Homo sapiens: one gene and its partners. The protein of the gene in region 1 purifies or fractionates together with the protein of each later gene. This does not show direct contact. Each region holds a gene or a part of one and is shown in the gene's direction. Other genes may lie near its edges.

Region 1 (4,648 bases):
ACTGTTTTTAATGACATTTGAAATCTCATATTCTAATTATTCGTTATACAGAATTGCCATTCTGTATAATGCCATTCATTATACAGAATTGCTATTCATTATACAGAAATGCCATTGGTTTTCATTGTATCTAGTAAGTTGACTAAATTTGCTTATTAACTGTAATGATTTTATTCTTCTGCATTTTTCTATGTACAGAACAATGTCATCTGTGAATAATGACAGTTTTATTTCTTTCCAAATTTTAAACCTATTGTATTTTCCTGATGATATGGCACTTTTTGGAACCTCCAGTAAATTGTTGAATGGATAGTGGACATCTTTGTCTTGTTTTCAAACTCAGGGAGAAAATACTGATACGTCACTATGAAGTATGGCATTTAAAAATTTTTTGTACATATGCTAACCAGAATAGGAAAGTTGCCCTTTTTCCTAAGTTGGTGATAGTTTTTATCACGAATGGACTTTAAACATTGATCCATGTATGAAAATGATCATGCGGTGTTTCCCTGTTTTTGTTGTTGTTGTTGTTGTTGTTGTTAATGTGGTGCACTACATTTGTCGATTTTCAAATGTTAAATCAGTGTTGCCTTTCTGCAATATACTCCACCATGGCTGATGTATGTCCTTTTTAAGTACTAGTACATTTTATTTGCTCACCCTTAGTTTGGAATTTTTGTGTCTAAGTTCGGGGTGATCTTGGCTTGTATTTTTGGCTTGATCTTGTAGTTTTTCATTCTTCTAAATTCCTTGTCAGATGTTGTTATCAGTTTTGTATCAATCTTCTAATAAGGGTTCCTAATAAGGGTTAATACACGTTGGTTTATGCATCTATTTGAATATATAAGCATAAATACTTATATATTAAATATATATGATATATAATATATAATTTAAAATATAATGTATAATAAGGGTTAATACAGATTGGTTTATACATCCATTTTTTCTAATAAGGGTTAATACAGATTGGCTTATACATCTTCAAATAGGTAATAATATTTTTATCTATTTTTGGTTGATGACAGCTGCTTATTCCACAAGCATTCTGATTGATTTGGTTATACCATCTTTCTTCTGTTTTACTTTGTGTACATTAAAATTAGGTTTCTTTTCCTGAGAACAGAGTGTTTGTTGAGACTTGGTAAATCTTGGCTCATGATTAAAAGTGAAATTAATGATTCAAAGTCTTGGTTGTATACACATATGCAGATTGCTTGCCATTTTGTGATTGTTAGATTTTTGTCATGAATAGAATATATTCATTGATGTTTTTCAGGAAACAATGACCGATAAAACAGAGAAGGTGGCTGTAGATCCTGAAACTGTGTTTAAACGTCCCAGGGAATGTGACAGTCCTTCGTATCAGAAAAGGCAGAGGATGGCCCTGTTGGCAAGGAAACAAGGAGCAGGAGACAGCCTTATTGCAGGCTCTGCCATGTCCAAAGAAAAGAGTAAGTAAGCCTGTCCTCACGTCCTCCTCATGCTCCTGCCTCATCCCCTCCAGAGAAACTGTCCTTGTCAAGGTTAACAGTTTCGGCTGACATTGCCATTAACTTCTCAGCAGCATTTGACAGTTGTTCACTCGCTTCTTCATGAAAACCTTCTAGGATTTCCATTTCCGACAATCTTTTTTTTTTTTTTAATTTCTTGTCCGTATTGGTGAATCCCTATCATTTTTTTCTTGAGATGGAGTTTCGCTCTTCTCAGCCAGGCTGGAGTGCAGTGGCGCGATCTCGGCTCACTGAAATCTCCGTCTCCTGGGTTCAAGTGATTCTTCTGCCGCAGCCTCCCGAGTAGCGGGATTACAAGCACCAGCCACCACACCCAGCTAATTTTTGTAAGTTTAGTAGAGATGGGGTTTCGCCATGTCGGCCAGGCTGGTCTGGAACTCCCCCCCTCAGGTGATCCACCCACCTCAGCCTCCCAAAGTGCTGGGATTACACGCACGAGCCACCGCCCCCGACCCCATCATTGTTTTTTTCTACATTTCTTTTTCTTCTCTTCTCTAAATACTGTAAAAAATTCCTGAACCCCAGCATCTCTCTCTCTCCTTCTATTCCACTCTGCCACGATCAATCACTGAGCTCCTGAGATACCTCCATGTTTCCCATTATTTCCCGCATCAAACACATACCCTCCAACCCTGCAGCCGGGTCATGATGTTGGCATGTAAATCACGTGATGCCATGTCGCTCCTGAACACCCATCCTCAACACTCCTAAGCACTCAGAACCGACTGCGAAGCAGCTTTGGTCTGCGAGGTTCTGCGTGGCCTGGCCTCCGTCACCCTCTCCTCACACGGGCCCCATCATCTCCTGACTCTCTCTGCTACTGTCCTTCACCCCATAGTGCCCGGTCCATCCCCACTCCAGCCCATATCCTTGGCCTCACCGCAACCTGGAACTCCCCCTCTGCCTCTGCGCAGGCAGCTCTGCTTTTTCCTTCAAGCCCTGCCCAAGGGTACCTCCACAGAAGGCTCTGCCCAACCAGCAGCAGCTCCTGGGGCTCCCTCTGCTGCTGTTGCCCACAGGCCTGTGGACTGCTTCCTTACCACTAGCCCAACACTGTATGTTTCATTTGCTCATTGTGCACGTACTGTCTGACCGCCCCATGAGGATGTGAGCTCCACAAGGGCAGGGAACGTTGCTCTCTGGGCTGTTTACTGCTGATCCCCAGCTACCGGCACGCTGCCTGCCACAGACGATGAATAAATGAGAGGTGTCAGACCTGGAGTGAAAAGAAAGTCACTTTTGTGAGAAAGAAAGGAAGGATGAGGAAAATCATACAGTAAAAGGGACTTTTTGGTGGTGGAGTGCGTATAGAACTTTTAGCAGTAATGGCCGCCTCTATTTTCTCAGAATGTGTTTGATATAACAGGAGACCGGTTGAGTTGTATCCCAGTTGCCTGGGTTCCAGCTCAGTAAAGCATGGCAGTTTGTAAGTGAATTTGAGAAATCATGATATCAAGTGAGACTTGCTGCTTTCAACTTGTAAAGCATAACAAGCTGAAACTGTCCCATGAGTACCAGGGATCTGTGAATGTTGCTTTAGAGTTGTACTGCCTTACTTGGTTTCCATGTCTATTCATAGGGCCAGAAAATAAGAGGTGGTTTTATTGTATTATGTGTCCTGGCCTCCGTTTGTCAGGCCTGGGATTTCTCCCTGGTGTATCCTCCCATTTATGAAATAAATAATTCCCTAGAAACTGAGGAGCACATAGATGTACCCAGAGGGGTGATGAAACACACATATCTCACAGCTCAGCTTCTCAGTTTGATTTCCAGAGCTGTCATTCATGAGGTCTATGTGGAGGGGAAAGAAAGTGGTCAAACACCAACTGATGGCTTTTACTCAAAATCTGTTTCACCAGAGCTTATGACAGGACATGCTATTCCACCCAGCCAATTGGATTCTCAGATTGATGACTTCACTGGTTTCAGCAAAGATGGGATGATGCAGAAACCTGGTAGCAATGCACCTGTGGGAGGAAACGTTACCAGCAGTTTCTCTGGAGATGACCTAGAATGCAGAGAAACAGCCTCCTCTCCCAAAAGCCAACGAGAAATTAATGCTGATATAAAACGTAAATTAGTGAAGGAACTCCGATGCGTTGGACAAAGTAAGTAATATAAGAATGTCTGTTTTATAAAACTATAGGAAGTCTCTCTTTCTATGATTCAGAAGATATTCATGTTGCCTGTTGAGTTTCATTCTTTGCCAGAGTTGAGATTGCACATAATTTATGGTGGTTCCTCTTTTCTTTGACTAAAGCATGTACATTTTTTCTTTTTCTTTTCTTACTTGGTTATGGTTAAAGGAGTTACATTCGTATGTATGTGCAGGTGTCTTTTTTATTATTTAGGTTTTGTATGTGCAGGTATCTTGATTTAAGCATTTAAAACATTTCAGCCTCTGAAGCATGATTGCTGAGGTGTAGATTCACTTCTATTCTTCTTTATATTTGATAATACTGAAGTTTTTTTTTTTTCAACATCTTCAGAATATGAAAAAATCTTCGAAATGCTTGAAGGAGTGCAAGGACCTACTGCAGTCAGGAAGCGATTTTTTGAATCCATCATCAAGGAAGCAGCAAGGTGGGTAGAAATAGGAACTGTCCAATTTCTTTAAGCACTTGGGCTCAATAGAGCACTGGGGGTGAGCGTTGGGGAACAGCCCCTGCCTTGCGTTTCTCAAACCCTGGTCCTCACTCACAGTTATGGCTGTCTCCACAGTTACTTAGGCTAATGTTATCTGAGTGTAACTCATTCTTCGAAGACTATGGAGACTTCCATTTTCACCATAGTCTGAGGTGCGCATTGTCCCTCAATTGACACTCTTTGTATTTGCTAGACTACCTCTTTTTAAAAAATTTGTGTAGGCACATAGCAGATGCATATATTTCTGGGCTATATGAGATATTGTGATACAGACAACAATGTGTAATAATCACATCAAGGTAAGTGGGGTTTCTATCACCTCAAGCTTTTATCCTTTGCGTTACAGAGAATACAATTATACTCTTCATTATTTTTAAATGTGCAATTAAATTATTACCGACTATAGTCACCCTGTTTGGCTATGAAATACGACATCTTATTTATTCCATACTTCTACGTATTAATCATCCCCACTTCCCACACCCTCC
Region 2 (4,648 bases), on another chromosome or scaffold:
CGAACTTCTGACCTGAAGCAGTGCTCCAGCTCAGCCTCCCCAATTTTTGAGACAGGATCTTGCTGTGGTGCCCAGGCTGGAGTGCAGTGGTGTGATCATGGCTCACTGCAGCCTCCAACTTCTGGGTTCAAGCGATTCTTCTGCCTCAGCCTCCCAAGTAGCTAAAACCATAGGCAAGCACCATCTTGCCTGGCCAATTTTTTTAAAAATTTTTTGTAGAGATGGGGCATTGCTGTATTGCCCGGACTGGTCTTGAACCCCTGGCCTGAGGTGATCTCCTCCCTCTGTCTCTGAAAGTACTAGGATTATAGGCACGAGCCACTGTGACTTAAATATTTTTTAATACTCTATTCTAACGTAAAATAAGCCATCAAGAAACCTCACATGTAGAAAAGCCACAGAAATGGAAGAAGAAATTGGTCCCAGTATAGCAGAAAGTGGTAACTGGATGCTCAACCTTGATGACTGAACATTTGGTTAACAGCTGGCTTCTAATGATCTCCACTTAGTATTTTTTCTGCTTTATCTCACTTCTCAATTTCAGTTCTTGGAAGTCTGTTTTATCTATAGGAATTTTATTTTACCCAGGATCTTATTTACATCTATTCAATGGCTAAAACTTTGACGCATTATATATTTATGTGTTTTTGGCTAAGGTGAAGAAAACAGCAGGTGGCTAATCTTTAAAACCAAATCCTTGATTACCACCTGCTGACTCTACAGAACAGCCTTCTAAGTCTTTAAATAGAATGGTCTCTCCATCCTTACAACAAAGTACTGAAAGTAACTTGTGTACACTTCCACTCTGCCTGCTGGTTTGCATTAACAGCTTTAACCATCAGAGCCACTGATGTAAGAGTTTCGTTAACTCTAGCATACACTTGTAAGAAAGAAGACTCAGAGGCTGGGTGCGGCGGCTCACGCCTGTAATCCCAGCACTTTGGGAGGCCGAGGCAGGCAGATCACTTGAGGTCAGGAGTTCGAGACCAGCCTGACCAATATGGTGAAACCCCATCTCTACTAAAAATAAAAAAATTAGTTGGGCAGGGTGGCGGGGGCCTGTAATCCCAGCTACTTGGGGCTCTGAGGCAGGAGAATTGCTTGAACCCAGGAGGCAGAGGTTGCACCGAGCTAAGATTGTGCCACTGCACTCCAGCCTGGGCAACAGAGCAAGACTGACTCTATCTCAAAAAAAAAAAAAAAAAAAAAGACTCAGACTCTAACACTTCTCTTGGTTCCCTAATTAACAAAATACATCTGAGAACAAATGACAAACTCCAAATATCATGGGAATATTTTTTTCGTCTTTACTGCAGTCACTGTTTTTGTTAAAAGCCTATTAAATTTTATAAATGGAAGCGCTGTTTGTCCAAAGGTATGTACGATTATAATCGTTTAATAGAAAGCTCTATATGAGATTGTGGATAATGTTCAGCATAACTATTTAGCTAAAGTAATAATAATGTGTATGTTCCATCTTATAGACACAAGCTGGTGAGGGCAGAGTGTATAAGTGCCTCTTTAACCATAAATTTGAAGAATCCATGAGTGAAAAGGTAAGTATTATTTTGAAACTAATGAATGTTTTATTTGTTTTTTAAAAGCTTTCTCAGCCAGACACGGTGGCTCACGCCTGTAATCCCAGCACTTTGGGAGGCTGAGGCAGGTGGATCACGAGGTCAGGAGTTCAAGACCAGCCTGGCCAAGATGGTGAAACGCCGTCTCTACTAAAAATACAAAAATTAGTCGGCCGTGGTGGTGGGCGCCTGTAATCCCAGCTACTCGGGAGGCTGAAGCAGGAAAATCACTTGAACCCAGGAGGTGGAGGTTGCAGTGAGCTGAGATCGCACCACTGCACTCCAGCCTGGGTGACAGAGTGAGACTCTGTCTCAAAAAAAAAAAAAAAAAAAAAGCTTTCTCAATTTCTCTGAAACAATATTTCTTATAATCTTATACCGAAACGTAAATGACTGATAAAGCTCACCGCTTTCAGAGGTGAGGTACTTGGGTTTTAAGCATATTTGGCTGAAACCAAGAAAATGAAACCCTGATTGTGATATCTAGATAGTGAGAAGCCAAGTAGGGTTCTCACTGTGGTGGTTTTTTTAGGTGTTTTTGTTTTGTTTTGTTTTTGTTTTTTTTTGAGTGGAGTCTTTCTCTGTCACCCAGGCTGGGGTGCAGTGGCATGATTCGGCTCACTGTAGCCTCTGCCTGCCGGGTTCAAGCAAGTCTCCTGCCTCAGCCTCCCTAGTAGCTATGACTACAGGCACCTGACAACACGCCCAGCTAATTTTTGTATTTTTAGTAGAGACGGGGTTTCACCATGTTGGCCAAGCTGCTCTCAAACTCCTGACCTCAGGTGATCCACCCGCCTCTCACTGTGGTTTTATATAAAATCCTCAGTGTGATTTTATATAAAATTCTCAGATATTACTTTGTTTGGGGAGTAAAATCAGAGAATTTTATATAAAACCACACTAAGGCCAGCCCTGCCTCCTCAAGAAGTTTAGGTTAACCAAATCAATGTGCTTTCTAGGCAATTAGCTATTTAATTTTTCAGCAGCTATATCATTAAGCATCCTCTTTTAGTTCTTTGTCCCTGAATGAATGCAAGAATAGTTGATGGCTTTTGAAATAATTAATTTTGCTATCTTGTCATTTACTTTCCTGTGTAGCTGAAGAAATGTTTCTCATTTCCTTTTTCTTGTATCATTTGAACAATCTTATTCAAATCTTATTATTCAGATGATATAGAATAATTGAATAATTGTATTTTAAAGCATTGAACAGAATATCCCAAATGTTATGTTAGTTGCCAGTTTGATGCTAGTGAAATTTATGTTCGGGGTATTGTTAAAGTGGAAAAGAATGCTGTGTGTCAAGTTAACATATTGGGATCTGTGAGATATTTACATGTTTTGGATAGCTGCTATTGCAGCAACAACTAGCAAGTGACTACAGAATTTCTAGGTTCCCCACCCACTTACCCCTGTCTCATGCCACACTAGTTTAGCTCAATTGTGAACATTTTAACCAAACTTAAAGATAGATATGTTGGTAATAACTGCAGTTGTTGACATGTACTTGGCTGAGTCGCTGTGCTCATCTTAGTGGTACACGTCAACAGTAAAGTTACATGAGTGGTCTCACGGCTGTTGCTGTACTCTTTCCTCAGTGTCGAGAAGCACTTACAACCCGCCAAAAGCTGATTGCCCAGGATTATAAAGTCAGTTATTCATTGGCCAAATCCTGTAAAAGTGACTTGAAGAAATACCGGTGCAATGTGGAAAACCTTCCGCGATCGCGTGAAGCCAGGCTCTCCTACTTGTTAATGTGCCTGGAGTCAGCTGTACACAGAGGTAGCATTCATATTTTTTTTTTAATTATCATTTCTGTTCCTTTTTGGATTCACACTCTAAAGCTTTATATATATAAACGTTAGTTTCCTCCCATATTTGCTTCTTTGAGTATTTTTCTTTTTTTTTTTTTTTTCTTGAGACGGAGTCTCTCGCTCTGTCGCCCAGGCTGGAGGGCAGTGGCGCAATCTCGGCTCACTGCAAGCTCCGCCTTCCGTGTTCACGCCATTCTCCTGCCTCAGCCTCCCAAGTAGCTGGGATTACAGGCGAGTGCCACTGCGCCTGGCTAATTCTTGTATTTTTAGTAGAGATGGGGTTTCACCATGTTGGTCAGGCTGGTCTCGAACTCCCAAACTTAGGTGATCCGCCCACCTTGGCCTCTCAAAGTGCTTGGATTATAGGTGTGAGCCACCGCACCTAGCAATTTTTTTTTTTTTTTAATAGAGATGAGGTTTTGCCACGTTGGCATCCCGGGTCTCAAAACTCCTGCCCTCACGTGATCCTCCCACCTTAGCTCCCAGAGTGCTAGGATTACAGGCGTGAGCCACTGTGCCCAGCTGAATAGTTTTCTTGTCTTTTCTTTTTTTTTTTTTTGAGACAGAGTCTCGCTTTGTCACCAGGCTGTAGTGCAGTGGCACAATCTCAGCTCACTGCTACCTCCGACTCCCTAGTTCAGCCTCTGGAATAGCTTGGATTACAGGCACGCACCACTATGCCCAGCTAATTTTTGTATTTTTAGTAGAGATGGGATTTCACCATGTTGGCCATGATAGTCTCGATCTCCTGACCTCGTGATCTGCCTGCCTCGGCCTCCCAAAGTGCTGGGATTACAGGCGTGAGCCACTGCGCCTGGCCTAGTTTTCATTTTTGAAATACACATTGTGCAACATTTTGAGGAGACTCAGGGTAGCATGATTTAGCACATGGGTCAGACTTGGCTTCAAATTTTGGCTTTATCACTAAACAAACCGTCTGGGTGACCTGTTTTTGTTTTGTTTTGTTTTGTTTTAATCTTTTTGTTTTAAGTTTTCCTGGCCAGGCGCGGTGGCTCACGCTTGTAATCCCAGCACTTTGGGAGGCCGAGGTAGGCAGATCACGAGGTCAGGAGATCGAGACCACGGTGAAACCCCGTCTCTACTGAAAATACAAAAAAATTAGCCGGGCGTGGTGGCAGGCGCCTGTAGTCCCAGCTACTTGGAGAGGCTGAGGCAGGAGAATGGCGTGAACCCAAGAGACGGAGCTTGCAGTGAGCCGAGATCGCGCGCTGCACTCCAGCCTGGGTGACACAGTGA
Region 3 (4,648 bases), on another chromosome or scaffold:
CCTTGGGAAATCTCATTGATTTTCCTGTACCCTTAACTGATCAGTTCACACATCTGCATTGCCAACCTTGACTTTCTTCTACATCTAGTCTTACATCTTAAATTGTGTGGATGACACCCATCGCTTCCAATAAAGCACATTCCTTCTCCTAAGGGGAATTAGTTATGAGTTCCCAATTTCTGTTAATGGTGTTATCTTTCACTGATAAGTAACTGTTAAACCTCCTGAATAATCTCTGATTCTTCCTCCTTTCATCCCCCTGTATCTACCAGTTGTTAAGCTCTGTTGCTTCTTTATTCTTAGTGTTTCTTATATCTTTCTCTTCCCATGACCACCCTCATTCAGGACTTTGTTGTTTTGTGCCTGCACTACCACAGCGTCCTTTTAATTATTTTTACTGTCTTTAATGTCTTACACTCTCAGTGCAAGTCCATGTCTACTTAAATTTTCCTAAAGAACTCTTCCTACAGCCGCTCCTCGGTTTCTTTTCTTGATTGAATTTGTTTTGCCCAAAGGCCCAAGTTTATATTCAGCTTCAGAGTTGAGATTCTTTATTTTCTTATCTTTTTTTTTTTTTTTTTTTTTTGAGATGGAGTTTTGCTCTTGTTGCCCAGACTGGAGTGCAGTGGCGCAATCTCGACTCACTGCAACCACCGCCTCCGGGGTTCAAGCGATTCTCCTGCCTCAGTCTCCTGAGTAGCTGGGATTACAGGCATCCACTACCATGCCTGGCTAATTTTTTTGTATTTTTAGTAGAGACAGAGTCTCACCATGTTGGCCAGGCTGGTCTCAAACTCCTGACCTCAAGTGATCCACCCACCTTGGCCTCCCAAAGTGCTGGGATTACAGGTGTGAGCCACTGCACCCGGCCGAGATTCTTTATCTTCTACATGAACCTGCTATCCTGTATAAACCGGCTTTCTCAGGTTAGAGTGATACAGAATTCTTCCAAACTCCAGTAAATCTTATTCTTCTTACTCATTTGTACATATGAATTTTAACTTTGTATATATATATTCTGTACATCTACTTTGAGCTTCTGCCATTTGCTAGGCAAGCATGGTGTTGAGTTTGGGAATACAGCCGTAAGCTACACAGACCTCTGTCCTTTTGGAAATGTTAGCCTAGTGGGAAAAATAGATATCAAATAATCACACAGTTTGTGAATGGTGATTAGTATTATGAATGAAGTATATAGGGTGCTGTTCAAAACATGTCATAGAGGAAACTGATCTAATATGGAGGGCAATAGGAAGAACTAGGGAAGGTTTCCCTGAAGAAGTGATGCTGAGCTGAAAGTTCAAGGATAAGTAAGAACTAACTAGAAAAAGTGACAGAAGAAGAGCATACAAGGCAAAGGGAACTGCTTTTGCAGAGGTCTTTAATAATACTCTATCTTGTCGTATTAGAGAGTAAATTAATTCAGAAGTAACACTTTGTCTTGCAAATCCTAGGTACTCAGTAAATGTTTGATTGAACTATCTATTTTGGAGGGTTGGACAAACTCTCCAGCCCTGTTTCTAGACTGCACTATGACCACCCCATCCCTCTTTGGTTTGCATTTAACATTACAACATCACCCTTTTCAACAAATTCATAAATTTCTGCAATGTTTTCTATACTTTTGAATTATGTTGATTGCATTTTTAAAAACATTTATTTTGAAATAATTATAGATTCACAGGAAGTTGCAAAGATAGTACAGACAGGTCCCTGTGTACACTTCACCCAGTTTCCCTCATAGGTTACATCTTATATAGTTACATTATAGTATCAAAACAAGGAAATTGATCTTGGTATAAGTATGTATCTGTTTCTGTATCATTTTATCACATGTTTATTTGTGTTACCATTACCACCACTGTCAAGATACAGAACTATTCCGTCACCGCAAAGATCTCCCTCATATTCCCTCTTTATAGTCCCACCTACCCAGCCTCTCCCCGCAACAGGTATCCCTAACCCCTGGCAACCATAATCTGTTCTCCATCTCTATAATGTTGTCATTTTCTATAATGTCATATGAATGGAATCATACAGTATGTGACTTTTTGAGGTTGTTTTTTGTCACTCAGTATAATGCTTTTGAGATCTATCCATATTGTTGTATGTAGCAGTAGTTCCTTTTTATTGTTAAGTAGTATTTCATGGTGTGGATGTACCACAGCTCGTTTAACCATTTACCTGTTGGGCGTTTTGGTTGCTTCTAGTTTTTGGCTATTATAACGTAGTATGAACAATCATGTACAGGTTTGTAAGGACATAACTTTTCATATCTCTGAGCTAAATGCCCAGGAGTGCAATTGCAGGATCAGATGGTAAATGCATGTTTAATTTTAAAATAAACTGACAAACTTTTCCAGAGTGGCTGTACTATTTTACATTTCTACCAGTAATATATGAGACATTGTTTCTCTGTATCCTCACTGCCATTTGATACTGTTATTATTTTTATTTTAGCTGTTTTAGTAGATGTGTAGTAATATCTCATCATGGTCTTAATTTGCATTTCCCTAATGATTAATAATGTTGAGAATATTTTTATTATTTATTTATCCTTTTTTTTTTTTTTTTTTTTGAGACGGAGTCTCCCTCTGTTGCCCAGGCAGGAGTGCAGTGGTGTGATCTCAGCTCACTGCAAGCTCCGCCTCCTGGGTTCACACCATTCTCCTGCTTCAGCCTCCTCAGTAGCTGGGACTACAGGTGCCCGCCACCACACCTGGCTAATTTTTTATATTTTTAGTAGAGACGGAGTTTCACTGTGTTAGCCAGGATAGTCTCAATCTCCTGACCTCATGATTCACCCTTCTCGGCCTCCCAGAGTGCTGGGATTACAGGCTTATTTATCCTTTTGAGACAGTCTTGCACTGTCACCTAGGCTGGAGTGCTATGGCGTGATCTCAGTTCACTGCAACCTCTGTCTCCTGGGCTCAAGCAATCCTTCTGCCTCAGCCTTCCAAGTAGCTGGGACTACAGGTGTGTGCCACCATGCCTGGCCATGTAGACGGGGTTTCACCATGTTTCTCAGGCTGGTCTGGAACTCCTAAGTGTAAGCCATACTCCCAGCTCAGCCTTTCAAAGTGTTGGGATTACAGGTGTGAGCCACTGCACCTGGCCTGAAAATCTTCGCTTATTTGCCATCCATGTTTTCTCTTTGGTGAAATATTTCTTCATGTCCTTTTGCCCACTTTCTAATTGGAGTGTTTGCTTCTTTACTGTGGTGTTTTAAAAGCTCTTTATAGGTTTTATTTTTATTTTATTTTATTTTTGATATGTGTTTCGCTCTTGTTGGCAAGGCTGGAGTGCAATGGCCTGGTCTCAACTTACTGCAGCCTCTGCCTCCCAGGTTCAAGCGATTCTCCTCTCTCAGCCTCCCAGGTAGCTGGGATTACAGATGCCCACCACCATGCCTGGCTAATTTTTGTATTTTTAGTAGAGATGGGGTTTCACCATGTTAGTCAGACTGGTCTCAAACTCCTGACCTCAGGCAGTCTGCCCATCTTGGCCTCCCAAAGTGCTGGGATTACAGGTGTGAGCCACCGCGCCGGCTTATCTTATTTTTTGAGAGAGTTTTGCTCTGTCATCCGGGCTGGAGTGCAGTGGTGTGATCTCAGCTCACTGCAACCTCTGCCTCCCAGGCTCAAGAGATTCTCGGGCCTCTGCCTCCCAAGTAGCTCAGATTACAGGCGTGTGCCACCGCGCCCAGCTAATTTTTTGTGTGTATTTTTAGTAAAGATGGGGTTTCGCCATGTTGGCCAGGCTGGTCTCAATCTCCTGGCCTCAGGTGATCTGCCCACCTTGGCCTCCCCAAGTGTTGAGATCATAGGCGTGAGCCACCGTGCCCAGCCAAAAGCTCTTTATATGTTTTAAATCTGAACCCTTTGTAAGATAGGTATTTGCAAATATTTTCTCCTAATCTGTAACTTGCCTTTTCATCCTCTTAACCACAATTTAAGATGAACCTTGATCTCATACCTTATACAAAAAGTAACTCAAAATGGATCATAGATTTTATCATAAAATAAAACTTTTAGAATAAAACAGGAGAAAATCTGCAGAACCTTAGGTTTGGTGAATAACTTTTAGACATAACACCAAATGCATTACTTATTAAAAAATTGATAAATTGGACTTTACCAAAATGAAAACTTACGCTCTGTGAAAGACCCTGTTAAAAGGATGGTTGCATTTAATTTTGGTCACTTTGTAATGGTAGAGAGGTAAGGTAACAAATTGTCTTTGAATCACTTTGTAGGCTATTATAAACAGCTGGGCACTTGTTGATTTTTAATTGTCTTCTTTACAGTCCTTTCCCAGTGGCATTACGTCTTTTTTTTTTTTTTGAGACGGCGTCTCGCTCTGTCTCCCAGGCTGGAGTGCAGTGGCGCGACCTCAGCTCACTGCAACCTCCGCCTCCTGGGTTCATGCCATTCTCCTGCCTCAGCCTCCCGAGTAGCTGGGACTACAGGCACCCACTGCCACGCCCGGCTAATTTTTTGTATTTTTTAGTAGAGACAGGGTTTCACTGTGTTAGCCAGTATGGTCTCGATCTCCTGACCTCGTGATCCGCCCGCCGCGGCCTCCCAAAATGCTGGGATTACAGGCGTAAGCCACTGCGCCCAGCTTTTTTTTTTTTTTTTTTGAGACG
Region 4 (3,500 bases), on another chromosome or scaffold:
CACACACACACACACACGTTGTTTTTTATTCTTTGATGCCTGTGGTATTGTAAGAATAATAGGTCTTTGGGAGACTGAGGTGGGTGGATCACTTGAGGTCGGGAGTTCGAGACCAGCCTGACCAACATGGCAAAACCTCGTCTCTACTAAAACTACAAAAATTAGCCAGGCGTGATGGTGGACACCTGTAATCCCAGCTGCTCAGGAGAATGAGGCAGGAGAATCGCTTGAATCCAGGAGGCAGAGGCACATGCCTGTAATCCCAGTTACTCCAGAGGCTGAGACAGGAGAATCATTTGCACCTGGTAGGCAGAGGTTGCATTGAGCCAAGGTCGCACCGCTGCAGATAAGTGTAATATGACTTGGAAGATCTTTTAAGACTTTACCTCAGGTGTATAAGTAAAATTTATTTGAAACCTGAATTTGTTAAGTATAGAAAGGAAGACAATAAATGTAGTAAGAGCTGCCTGGTAGCACACATTACATATAAAGCAGTATGTTTAATCATGTCTGTTCCTGTTTAGAAAATTTTGTATTTCTAAAATATTAGCCAGTGATAGGCAAAAAAAGGAAAAGTATGAACTAAAATACTGAGTTCTCCTGATCCTTTTCTTTAGCTCCATATGGTTCTGTTTTTGTTATGTGGGGATTTGTCACTTCTGTGTTTTCTTGGTCTTCATACATGTAAAATGCCAGTTTTATTCATTAAGTATGAATAATTTCAAGTTGTTAAATCTTTGCTTCCCTGTAATGTGCTTTGTAAAATACTGGCTGCCAATATGTCTGTTTCTCTTGATGCTGGACACTTCTATCCAAAGTGCTGCTGTGAAGGCTGTAGCATTTTACAAATGTTTTGGCAAGAAGTGATTGAGGTACAGTTTAATGCAGGTTCCTGCCCACTTTGTATAGCCCCATGCACACAAAATAAATATCACACCCTCTTAACATTGACTGCTTCCTTTGTAGTACCATAAACATTCTTATTTTCTCTATTTCTGTACCCCCAACTGCAGCAGTTCAGAGAATGTCTTTTTTAACCATTTGATACCCATTTGGTAGAATATAGTATATTGGAGATGTGTCTTGAAATTGGATGCCATTTGGGTAGCAAACATGGTCAAGATCATATTAATGAGGTATGACCTATTTGTTCATTTTAGAAAAAGTAAAGGTGAGAATAACCAAACTAACTTAGTGCCACAGAAGATTTTTCTGGAGCACTCACAACAGTGAATGTGGAGCCAGTAATCTAGTGGGAGCTTGTATATACATCCATGTGTATGTGTATTTAGAGTGAGGCATGTCTAGGGCTTAAGTGGTATTGAATCTACTTCCACTAGCTGAGGTAGTAATTAAAATCTTGGTCGAGCATGGTGGTTCATGTGCGTAATCCCAGCACTTCAGGAGGCCCAGGCCAGTGGATTGCTTGAGGCCACGAGTTCAAGACCAGACTGGCCAACATGACAAAACCCCATCTCTGCTACAAGTACAAAAATTAGCTGGGTGTAGTGGTGTGTGCCTGTAGTCCCAGCTGCTAAGGAGACTGAGACAGGAGAATTGCTTTAACCTGGGAGGCGGAGGTTGCAGTGAGCCGAGATGGCACCACTGTGCTCTACCTGGGTGACAGAGCAAGACTCTGTCTCAAAAAGCAAAACAAAACAAAAGCCAAGATCTTGATGAAAAAATAGTGATGAGAAACATTGACCGGACAATCATGAAGGCTCTGCCACCTTAATTGGGCTTGGGTAAATTTTAAAATCCAAGTCTCAATTATAAAATGAGGAAGTAAAACAAAAAGTTCTAAATTTTGCTTTTTAAATAATTGAGTCATTCTCTGTATCTTTAAAACACTAAAGTAGCTTTGTCTTCATTTTCATTCTCATTTGAGAGGTTGTAGAACTACCTTTTAAAAGTTAATAAGGTTATAAAACCTATGAAAGTGAGGGGTCAGCAAGTGTTGGTCCTGCTATTTTTGTAAGTAATATTTTATTGAAATACAGCCATATCCATTCATTTCCAGTTGTCTGTGACTACTTTCATATTACTGGAGCAGGGTTGAGTACTCGTAGTAGAGATCACATGGGCCGCAAAGCTCAAAATATTTACTACCTGGCCTTTATATAGGCTTAGAAAATAGAGCCTTGACAAAATTTTATACTTTAATAGTGTGGTTTTTCCTTCTGTTAAAAAAAAAAAAAAAGACAGCATTGCCAATACCACCTTTCCTTTTTATAGTTATTGCTGTGTATATTAAAGCATTCCTGAAATTATATTTTAGGACAATCTTAGCATTAACATAATTGCATTTGTCCTTTGTTTCACAGGAAGATGAAAAATTTCTGACAGATTTGTTTGCACAACTAACAGATGAAGCAACAGATGAGGAAAAAAGACAGGAATTGGTAAGAAATTAGATACTATGAAAGGCATAAAAATAAAACAACTGGCCGGGCTTGGTGGCTCACGCCTGTAAATCCCAGCACTTTGGGAGGCCGAGGTGGGTGGATCACGAGGTCAGAAGTTTGAGACCAGCCTGGCGAACATGGCGAAACCCCATCTCTACTAAAAAGTACAAAAATTAGCCAAGCATGGTGGCGGGCACCTGTAATCCTAGCTACTCAGAAGGCTGAGGCAGGAGAATCGCTTGAACTCGGGAGGTGGAGGTTGCAGTGAGCCAAGATCGTGCCATTGCACTCCAGCGTCGGCAACAAGAGCAAGACTCCGTCTCAATAAATAAATAAATAAAATAAACTTTTTATATCACTTATCCTTTTTTCTAATTTCAGGTTAACTTTTTAAAAGAATTTTGTGCGTTTTCCCAAACGCTACAGCCTCAAAACAGAGATGCTTTTTTCAAGACTTTGTCAAACATGGGCATATTACCAGCTTTAGAAGTCATCCTTGTAAGTTTTGTGTCTCCTCATTTTTAATTACCATTTTTTAATCCCAAAATTAATATTTTTAATGCTACATGCAAATATTCTATTATAGCCAATATTTGAAATTAGCTGCGTAGTTCATTAAGTTAAAGAAGCTGTAAAATTCCAATATTAGACAGTTTTCACACAGTATTGAAAGAATGCAGTAAAGGAATTTCCCATAATTTAATGATAGTTTGTCAGCTTTGCAGCTTATTAGCTGAAATGTTAAAATAGGCAAACAAATAAATGATTTAGAAAGTATAATTTTATCCGTACAATAAGAGTTTTATATGCAGAAGAATTTCTTTGACCTTTCTTTTACATTGAAGTTTTTTCATATGTTTTGTTAGGTTTGGATATTTACATAGCTATAGGTTCCGTATTTTTATAAATACAGGAAAAATAAATGTTTTTTGTCTGCAGGGCATGGATGATACACAGGTGCGAAGTGCTGCTACTGATATATTCTCATACTTGGTTGAATATAATCCATCCATGGTACGAGAGTTTGTCATGCAGGAGGCACAACAGAATGATGATGTAAGTAAGAAGTTAACAGAGCAAAAAATAACCAGCAAG
Region 5 (3,665 bases), on another chromosome or scaffold:
TTATGTTGTGGAATAGATCTTTCCAACAAGGTTTCTCATATTCTTATAGTTTTTTATATGTAATAAAACAATAGAGAAATATTTTGCCACCAGGTGACTCTCCTATTCCATCTGTTTCTTCGGGATCATCTTCACCTCTTTCAGCCACTTCTGCCCCACCAACGTTGGGCCAACCAAAAGGAGTCAGTGCCAGTCAAGATCGAAAGATACCTCCCCCAATTGGAACAGAGAGACTGGCCCGAATTCGGCAAGGAGGGTCTGTTGCACAAGCCCCGGCGGGGACCAGTTTTGTCGCTCCCGTTGGACACAGTGGAATCTGGTCATTTGGTGTCAATGCTGTGTCAGGTACAATTGCCTTGCTCTCTCTCTGGAGGGATATCTTAAGTAAGCTGTAGGTTTGCCATTAAAACTTAGTTCCTTAGAAAAAACAAACAAAAAAAACTTAGTTCCTATGTTTAACACTCAATTAGGGAAGGGTGTTTATATCTTTGAGGAGTTCAGTCCAATTTCAGAGTCTGGAATATTGGTTGAGGTAATACATAGAGTTAATCAGAAACAAAAGATTCAAAGTGTGTGTCCTTTCTCTCTTAAATAATCATTTGAGTTCTTTCAGAGAGTACTTAATCTTTTAAAAGACAGGGTAAAGTGGAGTATTCAGAGGACTTTACCTAGTTTTTCAGGAACTGGTTTTTTTTGGCTAGCAAGACTGTGATAAATACGCTTTGAGCTCTTCAGAGGAAAGATTTCAGTAACATTTGGTCATGTTTGGTAATAACAATGGTAATGTTTTGTTGTTTTATCCAAATAAATTTAAAACTTTGTTTTCAATTATTCTTTCCAGAAGGCTTATCAGGTTGGTCGCAATCTGTGATGGGGAACCATCCAATGCATCAACAATTATCAGACCCAAGCACATTCTCCCAACATCAGCCAATGGAGAGAGATGATTCTGGAATGGTAGCCCCCTCTAACATTTTTCATCAGCCTATGGCAAGTGGTTTTGTGGATTTTTCTAAAGTGAGTTGACAAACATCACTGTAACTTGATTGACACTTTGTCAGCCAATGTAGTCACATTAAGGAATACCTTGTATTGAAATAATGCTCCCTTTTGTTTCTGTGGCTTTGCTAGATCTTTTGCTTAATTTCAGGAGTGCACAGAGTTGTCCACAGTAGTTTGTCCTGAAGATGTCCCCATCCCCCGAAAACACCTGAGGGATTTGGGTTTTGCCACTTTGTGCTCTGCTACTACAGCTTTGAGGGAGGCCTCTACCCCTCTTAAAAGCTGGCCATGAGTTCACTGATGCTTTCTTGTCTGCTCTGACAGCTTTATGTCGGCAATCAATTATGTAGAGTTCCCATTTTCTTCTTAGCTCAAGCTTATTCATGAAACTAAAATATGGGAAAGTTGAGGTTATTTTTATCAAATATGAGAAATTTCCTGATGATTTCATATTGGATTTAGTTTCTTTCTCTCTCTTGTTTTTTGTTGAAAAGCTTTGCAGATGCAGATAAACATTTTGTTTTCTCAACACTGCCATACTGTACTTATAGGATCTTTTGGAGTTCTTTAAATGAGGAATATTAGAGAAGTCTAAGCTGGTATTATGGGATTTATAGTAATTTTATAATTTATAGTAATTTTAAGATTAAATCTTTTTTCCTGCTGTTTTAGGGTCTGCCAATTTCCATGTATGGAGGCACCATAATACCCTCTCATCCTCAGCTTGCTGATGTTCCAGGAGGCCCTCTGTTTAATGGACTTCACAATCCAGATCCTGCTTGGAACCCTATGATAAAAGTTATCCAAAATTCAACTGAATGCACTGATGCCCAGCAGGTAAAATGGGCTTAATGCTCTTTTGTTTTTTAGATTTGTCACATCATTCTTTTTGTTTTGTGAGAAGTATAAGTACTGAATATCAAAAGTCATAATTGACCATTTCGATCTGGATTGCTTTTTCAATATCAAGATGATGCTACTGAACACTTTATTTAATATATGTGTATTCTTCCTAGGCAGAAACAGTGAATTGCCATTGCATTTATATATTCATTTTGTAACTGTCTAAAGATTCCTAATTAGAAATTCCAATTTTTCCTCCCCCTTTTCAGATTTGGCCTGGCACGTGGGCACCTCATATTGGAAACATGCATCTCAAATATGTCAACTAAGTTAGAAGGTCTTTACTCTTTAGCCTTGTTTAAGAAACCTATGACCTTGGAAGAACCATGGGGATTTTTTTTTAATGTGCCTAAGAAATTTTCTCTGAGGCTTTAGCAATGGAAATTTGATTGCCCATTGTATAAGAACAAATTGATTTCCTATCCACCTGATTATGTTCTCTGGTTAGTTTAGCCATTTTGAACTTAAGATCATATGACCTTAGTGCTTTTGGCTAAACATACAGAATACTACTTGTATGCAGAAGAGAATTAGTTGATTACATGTTTCAACCTTTTAGGGTGATAAATACATGTATAATTGTTTACATACTTAAAAGGAAAAAGTTGAGTAAATTTCTTGTCATATAGTGGCTCTACGTAATGTAGCCTGTATTAATGTGAAATATTTACCAGAATATTCAATAAAAAGATGAACAGTCTTTAGAAGTGGGGTGTGATCCTTTCAGTGGTCATGCAGGTACCACTCAATCCACATTATATTGAACCAGATGGTTAATACTATATTTGTAACAGGCTTCTCACATTTAACACTTGAGTCCCTTCTTAGACTGCCTTAAAAAAGCACTTTTAAGACTATTTACCTATTTATTCTGTGTTAAACATTCCTTGTTCCCTTGTTGTCTTCCATAATCCTTTAACATATGAGAAAGTTTCAAGCTCTGGCAATGTGTCTTATCTGACTTTAGCTAGCAGATAGGCCACTGATAGGTTTTTTCTCTATGGATCATGAGAATGTCAATAAGAACAATTGGATTTAAATCAGATGACACTAAACAAATGTAGGGACACCCAAATTATCAACTTCAGGTTCCTTCTGTGCTTCCTGACCTTTTTTATCTGAAAGATTTGTCTGGTTATAGATATTTTAAGCTTTATATGAGTTGGGACATAAGGAGGTGACTCCTGTCATTCTGTTGTATTATTGAATCAGCTGAGTAATATTTATAAATATGTGAGTAATTCCAGGCTTAGTTCCATGGCCCTAAGCATGGAGAGTCAATATGTTTAACAAGCTAAACAGAGGAACCCTGGAATGGGCTGCTTTGGCCAAACCATAGGCTATGCCGAGAATCAGCATAGAGAAGGAAAAGTTATCCCACTGAAAAGTATAGTCATCAACTTATTTGTGTTTTAATATAGCTGAATTTTTCCTGGTCAGTATAGGCAATACAGAAAAGAAAACAAGAAAATGTTTGGAGCTGATGGAGAAGCCAAAACTCATATCAAGGCAAAGAAGGATGCACAGAGAAAGAGTAGTAACTAGGGACAGAACTATATTAGCAGCACCTTTCTACGCTTATGCCAACAGGAATTCTTAATTTTCTCTGCCCAGGTCCTAAAGCCAGGACCACATCAGACACACCATGTTTGTTCTGTGTCAGATATACCTGCTTCTTTAATCTTCTATATCATCTTACATATGAGAAAGCTTCCTTAATTAAGCTTATGTCTTATGTTTTGTTTTGAATGGATTTTGAA
Region 6 (4,648 bases), on another chromosome or scaffold:
TCTGCACTATTGTGATTCAAGGACAGAGAACTAAGCCACAAAATTCATTTAATCAAGCTTCCTTTATCAGTGAATACAAACATTTACTAAAATTAGTTTCCTATTAAATTTATCTTTACATATGGCAATTAAAGCCATTCTTGTAATGTAATAGTTCTAGGCTAAAATAAAAATTGGCTTTCTTATTATTTTACTGGGAATTATTTTAGATAAAGGTGGAGATTTTTGGAACTTTCTTTTTATAGGTAGACTCAGTTCAGCAGGAAAACAAAATGAATAATATAAAAAATATAGACCATTTGGAAATTAGCAGCATTATGAAAATTTAAAAATAATAATAATAATATGCATACACTCTTTTTTAGCCATAGTTCAAAAGAGGCTAAAGAAGGAGAAGAAGGCAAAGAGAAAATTGCAGGAAGCACTTGAGTTTGAGACGAAACGGCGTGAACAAGCAGAACAGACGCTAAAACAGGCAGCTTCAACAGATAGTCTCAGGGTCTTAAATGGTAAGAGGGTGTATATTATTGCATGAATAACTGTCATTTTTAATGCTTAAAGGACAGTTTAGGCATGTGTTTGTAGTTTTGTATGTTTCTATATCTTGTGATTCATTCAGCTATACTTGAAGCTGAAAGCAGGGTGGGAAGAACGTGTTGGGGAAAATGCCTTATTTTATAGGTGCTTCCACTGTTTTTTACTGAACTCCAGCATCTGGGACTTGGCATTACTTCTCTGCTTAACCAGATTTTTTTCTACTGAAGCACAATAAAATAGTAATTTGAGAATTTCCGAACCCCATCCTCTTTTATGAACAATGTTGCATTGCTTACTGTTCAAATCTTCCGAAAATTCTTACGGTTACAGTTTTTGTTCAACCTTTAAAAGATGACAAAGATTTACGTAATTTTAATTCAGCACCAAAGTAACAGGTTGCTCTTTTTTTTTAAAGGACAATAGGAATCAAATGAAATATGTGTCACTCTTACCTTTCTGTGCTTTTAGACTCTCTGACCCCAGAGATAGAGGCTGACCGCAGTGGCGGCAGAACAGATGCTGAAAGGACAATACAAGGTAGGAATTTGCAGAAGGCTATAAATCTAGATCTTGCTATATGAGTTTTTCCTCAGCTTTAGCCTGCTATTCAAGCATGTAGCCTACCATCTGGGCCACATCAAAACAAGTTCAAACAAGGTCAAGTTCATCTTGCTTGTTTATATGAGTGAATTCATTTTGTGCTGATAGATTTTCTTTAAATTAACAGGTCATCTCTGTTTATACAATGCAATTAAAAGGAATAATTAATTTTAAACAATGTATGATTTAATCTTGGACACAGTAAATGTGCTTTATTGAATGTGTGAAGCCCAGTCTAATGCAGGAAGGGTTTATAAGTTCTGTGCTACATAAATAAAATATGTGGTTAATCAAATAGGTAGTTCTTACAATTTAAAAATGTCTAACTACTCATTTTTATGACAGTTACTGCAAGGTACCTGCAAAATAGACTAGTTGAATGTTAACAATAAATAAGACTGTTTAGTTCCTATGTGGATTCCAAATGTTCTGTATGCCATTATATACACTTTAATAACACAAATCTGCTGAGTAAAATCATATATAGCATACCAAAGGGAGTTGTATTAAATGCTCAGAAGAGCTAAATATGTATATTGTCATGATCGTACTATTAGAAAAGAATAAAACCAGAAGGTAGCATTTATAGGCAAACATCTATTCCAGACGACAAATTCAACCTAACAACATGAATACTAAACAGTAACAAGAGCATTTGTTTTCTATTTAAAATGAAGGTGATTCTTCAAAGGGATGCCTAAAATGATTAACTGCCATAATCCTCCCAATTGCTTTTATTCTGCATTTTAAACTCAATCATTTTTAGGATATCATATGACGTTAATTGTGTTACTTAATCAGCTCCAAATATGTCATTCTTGGCTTAGTGTAAAGGAAATATACTTTTGTAAACTATCATATGTGCAAGAAGTAACAATCACAAACTTGAAGAAACATTTTTGAGGAAAGAATGGATTTTTTTTTGCCTATATTTATTTTACCTGAGGCCATTCTAATTAATTTGTAAATCCTAAGGTTTGAATCATATGTTATTATGAGACATCTTGGATATACAAGATTAATGCTATTGTAGATATAGAAAAAGATCTGAATTTTTAGAGTACTATGGATTTCAGCACAATTATATTGTGTATGTGTTTGTATGTATATGGTTATGACAATTAAAAGAATCCTCTTGCATCTTATAAAACTTACATACACATGTTCAAAATTACTGTTAATGAAAAAACCAGTCCTCTTTATCAGGGACAATAGCACCAACAAGACAAATGCAAATATCAGCACCAATGTGTACATGCAGGGGCTATTCACGCATTAGATAATGTCAAAGTGGTCTCAGAAAGCACATGAGCCCATAGATAAGTGTGACATATAAATCATCTGATATACACAGAATCCTCAAGGTGGTCAGAAGTCAATCTAGAAAAAATTGAAACAATATCGTCCTGCATATAAATGAGAGATTCGTTGTTAATATTAAGAAGTGATTAAACATTTTTGTATGGTTGATGATATAATATGTATGCCACCCATAACAACATGTTGGTTGTTAATAAGGCTATGGTTATTTTTGTTTGAATTTGTCAAATTTACATATGTTCAAACATACATTTTAATATAGGTAAAGTCTTGCTGTATGAGGCTGAAATGTTGACAACTTTCAGTTTCCATTGTTGTGACTGACTTATTCTGAAGAAAAGTTTTAATCACAAATTGCTTTCCTTTTAGTATCCAGAATCTTACCAGTGGAGGAATACAGTAAACCTATGCACCAACAACTTAATGGTTAGGGAAACAAAACATTTGTACAACAATTATACATAGTAATTTAAAACCATATACACATTTTATGGAATTATTTTTGCCTTTAATTGTAATAGAAAATCCTCACTCACTTTATTCATTCATTCAGCCTGTCCATTGTTGTACTGGTCAAAATGTACAGTTGTTTTTTAATAAAACATACTAACTATTCATTATATTTATCAGATAATATGACTTTTCCCAAATTGTAATAAGAAAAAACACTGTCAATGAATCTGTTTCTAGCTGTTAGTTGCTAAAAGATATTTTACCAGCAGTCAAACTATTTCAAGACTCTTAACATAACAGAGCAAAGAGATCATATTTGCTATTCTAACACCCTATTCAATAAGCTTTATTAGCCCTTTGAAATTTTTTTCTAACCTCAGACAAAATTCATACATTTGGAAGCTAACAAACAGAATACAATTAACTGTGAACAAAAGCAATCAAAGAAAGAATACTGTATTTAGTTAAATGTTGTCTAAGGACAAGAAAGGGAAAGGCAAAAAAGAAAGAACCAGAACTCATTACTAATTTGTGAAACGGTCTATGTCATGCCTTTTGGGAGCCATGAGCACCTGCTGCTTCACAATTCAAGAATGACACACACACAGCCTCTCACACTCATCACTTTCTCTCTCCAACTGTCCCCAAGCCCAGGTGTTATGACATTCTTTGTATTATTTCTTGCTCCAAATCCAACCATAACTGAAATTATTTTCTATTCCAAAGTAAACTCAATTTATTGGGAAAGACAAAATAAGCCCACAGGTTTTTTAATTTTTTCATGTATTTTTAACATTTCTGGCAATAAATAAATGCCACACTTGGCCCAAGAGTTAGTCACCTAGAAGTTGGGCACTTAAATACTTACTGCTTGAGTGCTAAGTAATTACCCCTAAATATGCACCTCTGGGTAGACTAAATATTGCCTCATTGGCATTTTGTATCACCATTTCTATAAAACCACAGAGGTGGACAAGAGGAATCAAGAAAGTAGTTTAGAAAGTATTTCTGAAGAAAGAAGCCCTAAATAATTTACTTGCATTTTCTTAATGAAGTAAATCAGCTCATAGTACGCAGGGTAGATTCTTTATTGCTGATTTTCAAATAACTAGGAATTCATGAATTGTAAAAATGCTATAAGTACAGAACAGACATTCAAAAATTTTAAAAAAACTTCTTCCAGGAACTGAAATATATGGCCATTAACTCTCTTATGCCTTATGTCACACAGATTTATATGGCATGATTTGTGTTGGACTTTGAAAAATTTACCCTACTCAAGAATTTCTCTAAGATCTTTTGAATCTATAAAGTAGACAGAGTTCATAAAAACAATCATCGAGCAGTGTTTTGGGCCAGTCAGTAAATATCCCTCAAAACCCCTCTGGCCCCTACACATATATATGCACATACGCGTACATTTTATGTAGCCAAATCTATAACATGATGGCTTTCTTCAGCTAAGTCGTCATCTTATTTTATTCCTTCTCCTTAGGCAACAGCATCTACTTTCATAGTTTCCTTCTTTTTTCTTTTTCTTTTCTTTTTTTTTTGAGACAGAGTCTCACTCTGTTGCCCAGGCTGGAGTGCAGTGGCACCATCTCGGTTCACCATAACCTCCACCTCCTGGGTTCAAGCGATTCTCCTGCCTCAGCCTCCTGAGTAGCTGGGACTACGGGCGTGCACCACCAGGCCCGGTGGTGTTTTTAGTAGAGACGGTGTTTCACTATGTTGACCA
Region 7 (4,648 bases), on another chromosome or scaffold:
AACCTGAAAAGTACCAAAAATTATAAAATAGATAACCATCTTATTAATGATCTAGATTTAACATTTTTTACATTTTGCTTCAGTTCTCTTTTAGAGAAAGATAAATACAATTATGTGCATGAATAAATAATACCAACTAAAGTCTAACCCCCTGACTACCTACCCCCTTTCTTCTGGTACCTGGTCACCAATTTTGGAGGGTATTATTCTCATATATATTTTGTAACTTTTTCCAAATATTAACTCATGTTAGAATTGTTTTAAAAACTTGCATAATTATATATATTTGCAGCTTGCCTGTTTTATCTAAACGTGTACCTATGTAGATCTAACATATATATATGCTATTGTGTAATATGAATAAACAATAGCACATTCATTCATTCATCATTTATTCATTTATCCCTCTGCATAATTTTTTACATATGCCTCTATTTACTTGACCATTTCTCTTTTTTTGGACGTTTAGGGTTTGTACCAAGTTTTACTATTATAAATGAGACTGAGGAAATATACATCTTCATATATAACTTTTGATGTTTAGGAAATAATTTTCCCCAGAGAGGCAGTATAACTTAGTTGTTAGAGGTGTATGTAGATTCTGGAGCAAGACTAATGTTTAAGTTCATTTCCGGTTTTCTTTCTTAATAGCTTTGTGATTTTGGGCTTAATTTCTTTGAGCCTCAGTTTCCTTATCTATGAAATGGGGCTAATGATAGTATCTACTCATTGAGATAATTTATGTGAAATCCTTAGAAAAATTTCTATATGAATGTTAACTATTATAATTAGACTCATGGCAGTGTGATTACTATGACAAAAATGTGAGCATTTTTAGGGCTGTTGATGCATACTGCCAGATCTGATATGATTCCTCAAATTATAATTATACAGTTATCCCAAATAATGGCAGATAAAATCTCATTTTATGTCTCTCTCACAAATGAGATCATGTAAGTAGAGGGGAATAACTCCTAGGAATAATTTTGTATTGGCTGATAAAATGAGCAACTTGATTTCAGCTCTGCCCTTATTATGTTGATACTATAAAGAGTGTCTGAATTTCAGGGAGCACACTAGATCCTTTATTCATGGATGTGTTTGTATCTCAGAAATAGGAGATAGGACTGTTTGAATTAGTAATCATCCTTTTATATATACTTTTCTTTTTCAGGGCAAAGAACAGGAACATACATTTGTCTTTAGACTGGATCATCCAAAAGCATGCAAACATTTATGGAAATGTGCTGTGGAGCATCATGCTTTCTTCCGCCTTCGAGGCCCCGTCCAAAAGAGTTCTCATCGATCAGGATTTATTCGACTAGGATCACGATTTAGATATAGGTTAATTTTAATTGCTGTTTTATCTGTCTTTCATTGCATACAGGCCAAAAAATTTAGGCCAATCTTCTCTTTTTTACAGATATGGTAACTAAGGTATAGAGGAATAAGGTGGTTTGCCAGAGTCTTCCATTGGCCAAAATAAAATAGAAAAAGTGGTATTGTTATTGGTTATAATTTCTTGAATAGATGCGTAAACAGTAATTGTATAATGGCTTTTATATCCCTCTGGATGTTTACTTTATATATTAACCCACTCCCAGTTTATCTATTTAACAAGAGTTTTATGGACTCTCCACCCACCACTGGATACCATATAGAAAAGGGTTTCTTGCACTGAATGGGATATTAGTCTGGATAACATTTGTGGTCCTTTATAAACCTGAAGGTCATTATTCTCATGACTCCTTGTTTGTTGTCATGAGTTAGAAATGTTTTGGTTTACTGCAGAGTGGATTATTGGTTGTGAGTTTTCTGCATGCCATGGAAATCAGTTAAAGAAGGAATGGATTGTACCAATAATGTGGCCAGTTGATTGTGTGGAGTTAATAGAAGTAGTACTGTAGTCTACTTATATTAAAAGTAAGGAGGCATTTTCTAAACAGAATTTAAATGGAAATCAAGGAGAATAAGACAGTAGTCTTAAAAAACATTTCTGGAAAATTATACTGAAAAGTGAATATCACAATTAGAAAAAGTAACTGAAAATATTCTTTTAATTACACACTTTGCACTGAGGAATGTAGATGGGAAAGAGAGGGAGTTTCCATAAAAGGACAGATATTTCAAACTTATTTAATGTGTACTTAGGTGATATGCATGCATATGAGAAAAATAAAACCAACATAATCTGTTGCATATTTCACAAAAGCCGAAAGAATGATATGGTAAAGAGAGAGATCGAGACTATTAGTAGCTGTTCCTGTGCGATGAAGTTTAGGATGATTCTTTTAAGGAGAACCTGAATGTGGACTGTCTTATTTGTGTGTGTTTATTACTGTAGACCTAAAATTTCCCTTACTTCTGTTATGCCTCATTTAGTGGGAAAACAGAGTATCAGACCACAAAAACCAATAAAGCAAGAAGATCAACATCCTTTGAAAGAAGGCCCAGCAAACGATATTCTAGACGAACTCTACAAATGAAAGGTGAAGTGCAACCCTCTTTCAAAGGATTATTTTTCCTTGGCAATTAATTATGTGCTGGTGTTGTTTCCATAAGAGGAAGTTACCTGAATCTCCTCCTCAGGTCTGTTCCAGTCAACTAAAGTACTTTTCTGGCAGAATCAATTTCATGGGATACACAGAGAAAAATTGCCTGTATTGTTAGCAGAGATTAAACTTTATGTTAATCCCAATTCAAATGATAGTCTGAGGTTATGTTCAGTTTTTGTATACAAAACTGTTTCTGTAGAGCAACATATTCTCTCCCTTTTTGACTTACAGATCTCATTCTAAAACATCCCTTAATCCCCTTAGGAATTTTTAAAAACATTTTTATTTATTTATTTATTTATTTATTTATTTATTTATTTTGAGATAGTCTCACTCTGTTGCTCAGGTTGGAGTGCAGTGGCATGATCTCAGCTCACTGCAACCTCCACCTCCCAGATTCAAGTGATTCTCATGTCTCAGCCACCTGAGTAGCTGGGATTACAGGCATGCGCCACCACTCCTGACTCATTTTTGTATTTTTAGTAGAGATGGGGTTTTGCCATGTTGGCTGGGCTGGTCTTGAACTCCTGACCTCAAGTGATCCACCCACCTTGGCCTCCCGAATCCTAAAAGGATTACAGGCATGCCTGGCCAAAACATTGTCTTGTGATGAATTTTTTTTAAGTAAAATTTATTTCATATTGTATTATAATATTAAGGATTGTATTAAATACCATTTTAAAATATATTCATCATTGTTATACATAGACATTTCCTAATTCATAATTGTTACTTGCTGATTAAGATCAGTTATATAAGAAAAAGCACTATTTACCTTGACAAATAAATTAAACCTTGTGTTTGGTTTTAAACTGAATTTGCATTAAAATGAATTTGCATTAAAATGCAAATTTAATTTTAAGTATTTCCACTGTCAGAGTCATCACCAGTTGTCCAAAAACAGCTGTAATGATCTGATGTTTGGCAGTATTGACTTTTTTATAAAAATGATTTATACTCATAAGTTTTGGTGTGGCTGTAAATTAAATATACAGCTATAAATGAATTGTGATGATTTTAAAACCCTAAGTTTCCTCTTGGTTTCCACTGATGATAATTCATAATCAGTCAGCTCACTCTGGAGGCTTACAGATTGGTTCTGTTTAAAAGGAGGAGATATATATGCATTGTATTGCTTTATTTGAAAAATGAAAATAATTGCCATTGTTGCCTCTATGGTGTGAATCCCAAAACACTTTGGTGAATTGAAGGTTTTTAGATTTATGGTTGGGGCCAAATGTGGTGGCTCACACCTTTAATCCCAGCACTTTGGGAGGCCAAGGTGGGAGGATTGCTTGAGCCCAAAAGCTCAACTCTTAGGAGTTTGAGACCAGCCTGGGCAACAGTAGTGAGACCCACCCCTATCTCTACAAAATCATGAAAGACCCTTTCTCAAAGAAATAAATTTATGGTTGTGAAACATGGCTTGTAAAGCAATTAGTTAAAGTTTTGCTTTGAATAGTGCAGCAGTTTATCATGTAAGATGAAACTAATGAGGTGTTATCTTTTTTCTTCTGTTAGCATGTGCTACAAAACCTGAAGAACTTAGGTAAGTAATGTTTTGCAACTTAGGAATTGGTATAGAATTTGGGATTTATGTAGTTGCTATCATTAAACAAATATTTAAGACCTATCAAAATGTCAAGTTGTCCGTAAAGCACCAGGGATATGTCAGGGAATAAATGAACATGTAATGCCAGATAAAAGTGACATGATGAAAAATTAAAGCAGTTTAAGGAAGTAAAGAATGGGGTCGAGGCAGATGAGCCATTCATAAAGAGAATGACATACCTTTGTTATTGGCAAGTGGCTGAGGATCTTAAGATAAATTATGATCCTTATACATAAGAAGCACAAAGGAGAAAGGTTGATTTGCAAATAGGCAATTTTCTTCCTGGGATAAATCCCACTTGGTTGTGGTGTATAGACCTTCTTTATGTTATATGTTGCTGGATTTCATTAGCCTGGTATGTTTTTGGATTTGTGTGTCTATTCATCAGAAATATTGGCCTGTAGTTTTCTTATAATGTCATTGTCTGGTTTTTTATGTAGGGTGGGTAATACTGGCTTTACAAAATAAGTTTGTATATGTT

The links.
Region 2: the proteins of CT45A5 (region 1) and GLG1 purify together in Homo sapiens (affinity purification with mass spectrometry, with the first as the bait; one large-scale study listed by BioGRID). This does not show direct contact.
Region 3: the proteins of CT45A5 (region 1) and ARMC8 purify together in Homo sapiens (affinity purification with mass spectrometry, with the first as the bait; one large-scale study listed by BioGRID). This does not show direct contact.
Region 4: the proteins of CT45A5 (region 1) and PPP4R3A purify together in Homo sapiens (affinity purification with mass spectrometry, with the first as the bait; one large-scale study listed by BioGRID). This does not show direct contact.
Region 5: the proteins of CT45A5 (region 1) and ANKHD1 purify together in Homo sapiens (affinity purification with mass spectrometry, with the first as the bait; one large-scale study listed by BioGRID). This does not show direct contact.
Region 6: the proteins of CT45A5 (region 1) and DACH1 purify together in Homo sapiens (affinity purification with mass spectrometry, with the first as the bait; one large-scale study listed by BioGRID). This does not show direct contact.
Region 7: the proteins of CT45A5 (region 1) and EPB41L5 purify together in Homo sapiens (affinity purification with mass spectrometry, with the first as the bait; one large-scale study listed by BioGRID). This does not show direct contact.

Annotation. Positions count from the first base shown.
Region 1 is NC_000023.11:135,778,367-135,783,014, reverse strand, and holds part of CT45A5 (cancer/testis antigen family 45 member A5), read left to right. Parts: intron 1-1,279; 5' UTR 1,280-1,285; coding exon 1,286-1,454; intron 1,455-3,373; coding exon 3,374-3,622; intron 3,623-4,003; coding exon 4,004-4,097; intron 4,098-4,648.
Region 2 is NC_000016.10:74,491,668-74,496,315, reverse strand, and holds part of GLG1 (Golgi apparatus protein 1 isoform 3 precursor), read left to right. Parts: intron 1-1,484; coding exon 1,485-1,556; intron 1,557-3,175; coding exon 3,176-3,359; intron 3,360-4,648. UniProt on the Homo sapiens protein: Binds fibroblast growth factor and E-selectin (cell-adhesion lectin on endothelial cells mediating the binding of neutrophils).
Region 3 is NC_000003.12:138,189,718-138,194,365, forward strand, and holds part of ARMC8 (armadillo repeat-containing protein 8), read left to right. Parts: intron 1-4,648. UniProt on the Homo sapiens protein: Component of the CTLH E3 ubiquitin-protein ligase complex that selectively accepts ubiquitin from UBE2H and mediates ubiquitination and subsequent proteasomal degradation of the transcription factor HBP1.
Region 4 is NC_000014.9:91,475,811-91,479,310, reverse strand, and holds part of PPP4R3A (serine/threonine-protein phosphatase 4 regulatory subunit 3A), read left to right. Parts: intron 1-2,324; coding exon 2,325-2,402; intron 2,403-2,786; coding exon 2,787-2,903; intron 2,904-3,344; coding exon 3,345-3,500. UniProt on the Homo sapiens protein: Regulatory subunit of serine/threonine-protein phosphatase 4. May regulate the activity of PPP4C at centrosomal microtubule organizing centers.
Region 5 is NC_000005.10:140,537,245-140,540,909, forward strand, and holds the end of ANKHD1 (ankyrin repeat and KH domain-containing protein 1), read left to right. Parts: intron 1-144; coding exon 145-345; intron 346-841; coding exon 842-1,017; intron 1,018-1,674; coding exon 1,675-1,839; intron 1,840-2,114; coding exon 2,115-2,174; 3' UTR 2,175-2,605; downstream 2,606-3,665. Other genes in the region: ANKHD1-EIF4EBP3 protein, read left to right, coding at 145-345, 842-1,017, 1,675-1,839. UniProt on the Homo sapiens protein: May play a role as a scaffolding protein that may be associated with the abnormal phenotype of leukemia cells. Isoform 2 may possess an antiapoptotic effect and protect cells during normal cell survival through its regulation of caspases.
Region 6 is NC_000013.11:71,471,567-71,476,214, reverse strand, and holds part of DACH1 (dachshund homolog 1), read left to right. Parts: intron 1-365; coding exon 366-509; intron 510-1,005; coding exon 1,006-1,074; intron 1,075-4,648. UniProt on the Homo sapiens protein: Transcription factor that is involved in regulation of organogenesis. Seems to be a regulator of SIX1, SIX6 and probably SIX5.
Region 7 is NC_000002.12:120,089,173-120,093,820, forward strand, and holds part of EPB41L5 (band 4.1-like protein 5), read left to right. Parts: intron 1-1,174; coding exon 1,175-1,344; intron 1,345-2,382; coding exon 2,383-2,489; intron 2,490-4,076; coding exon 4,077-4,104; intron 4,105-4,648. UniProt on the Homo sapiens protein: Plays a role in the formation and organization of tight junctions during the establishment of polarity in epithelial cells.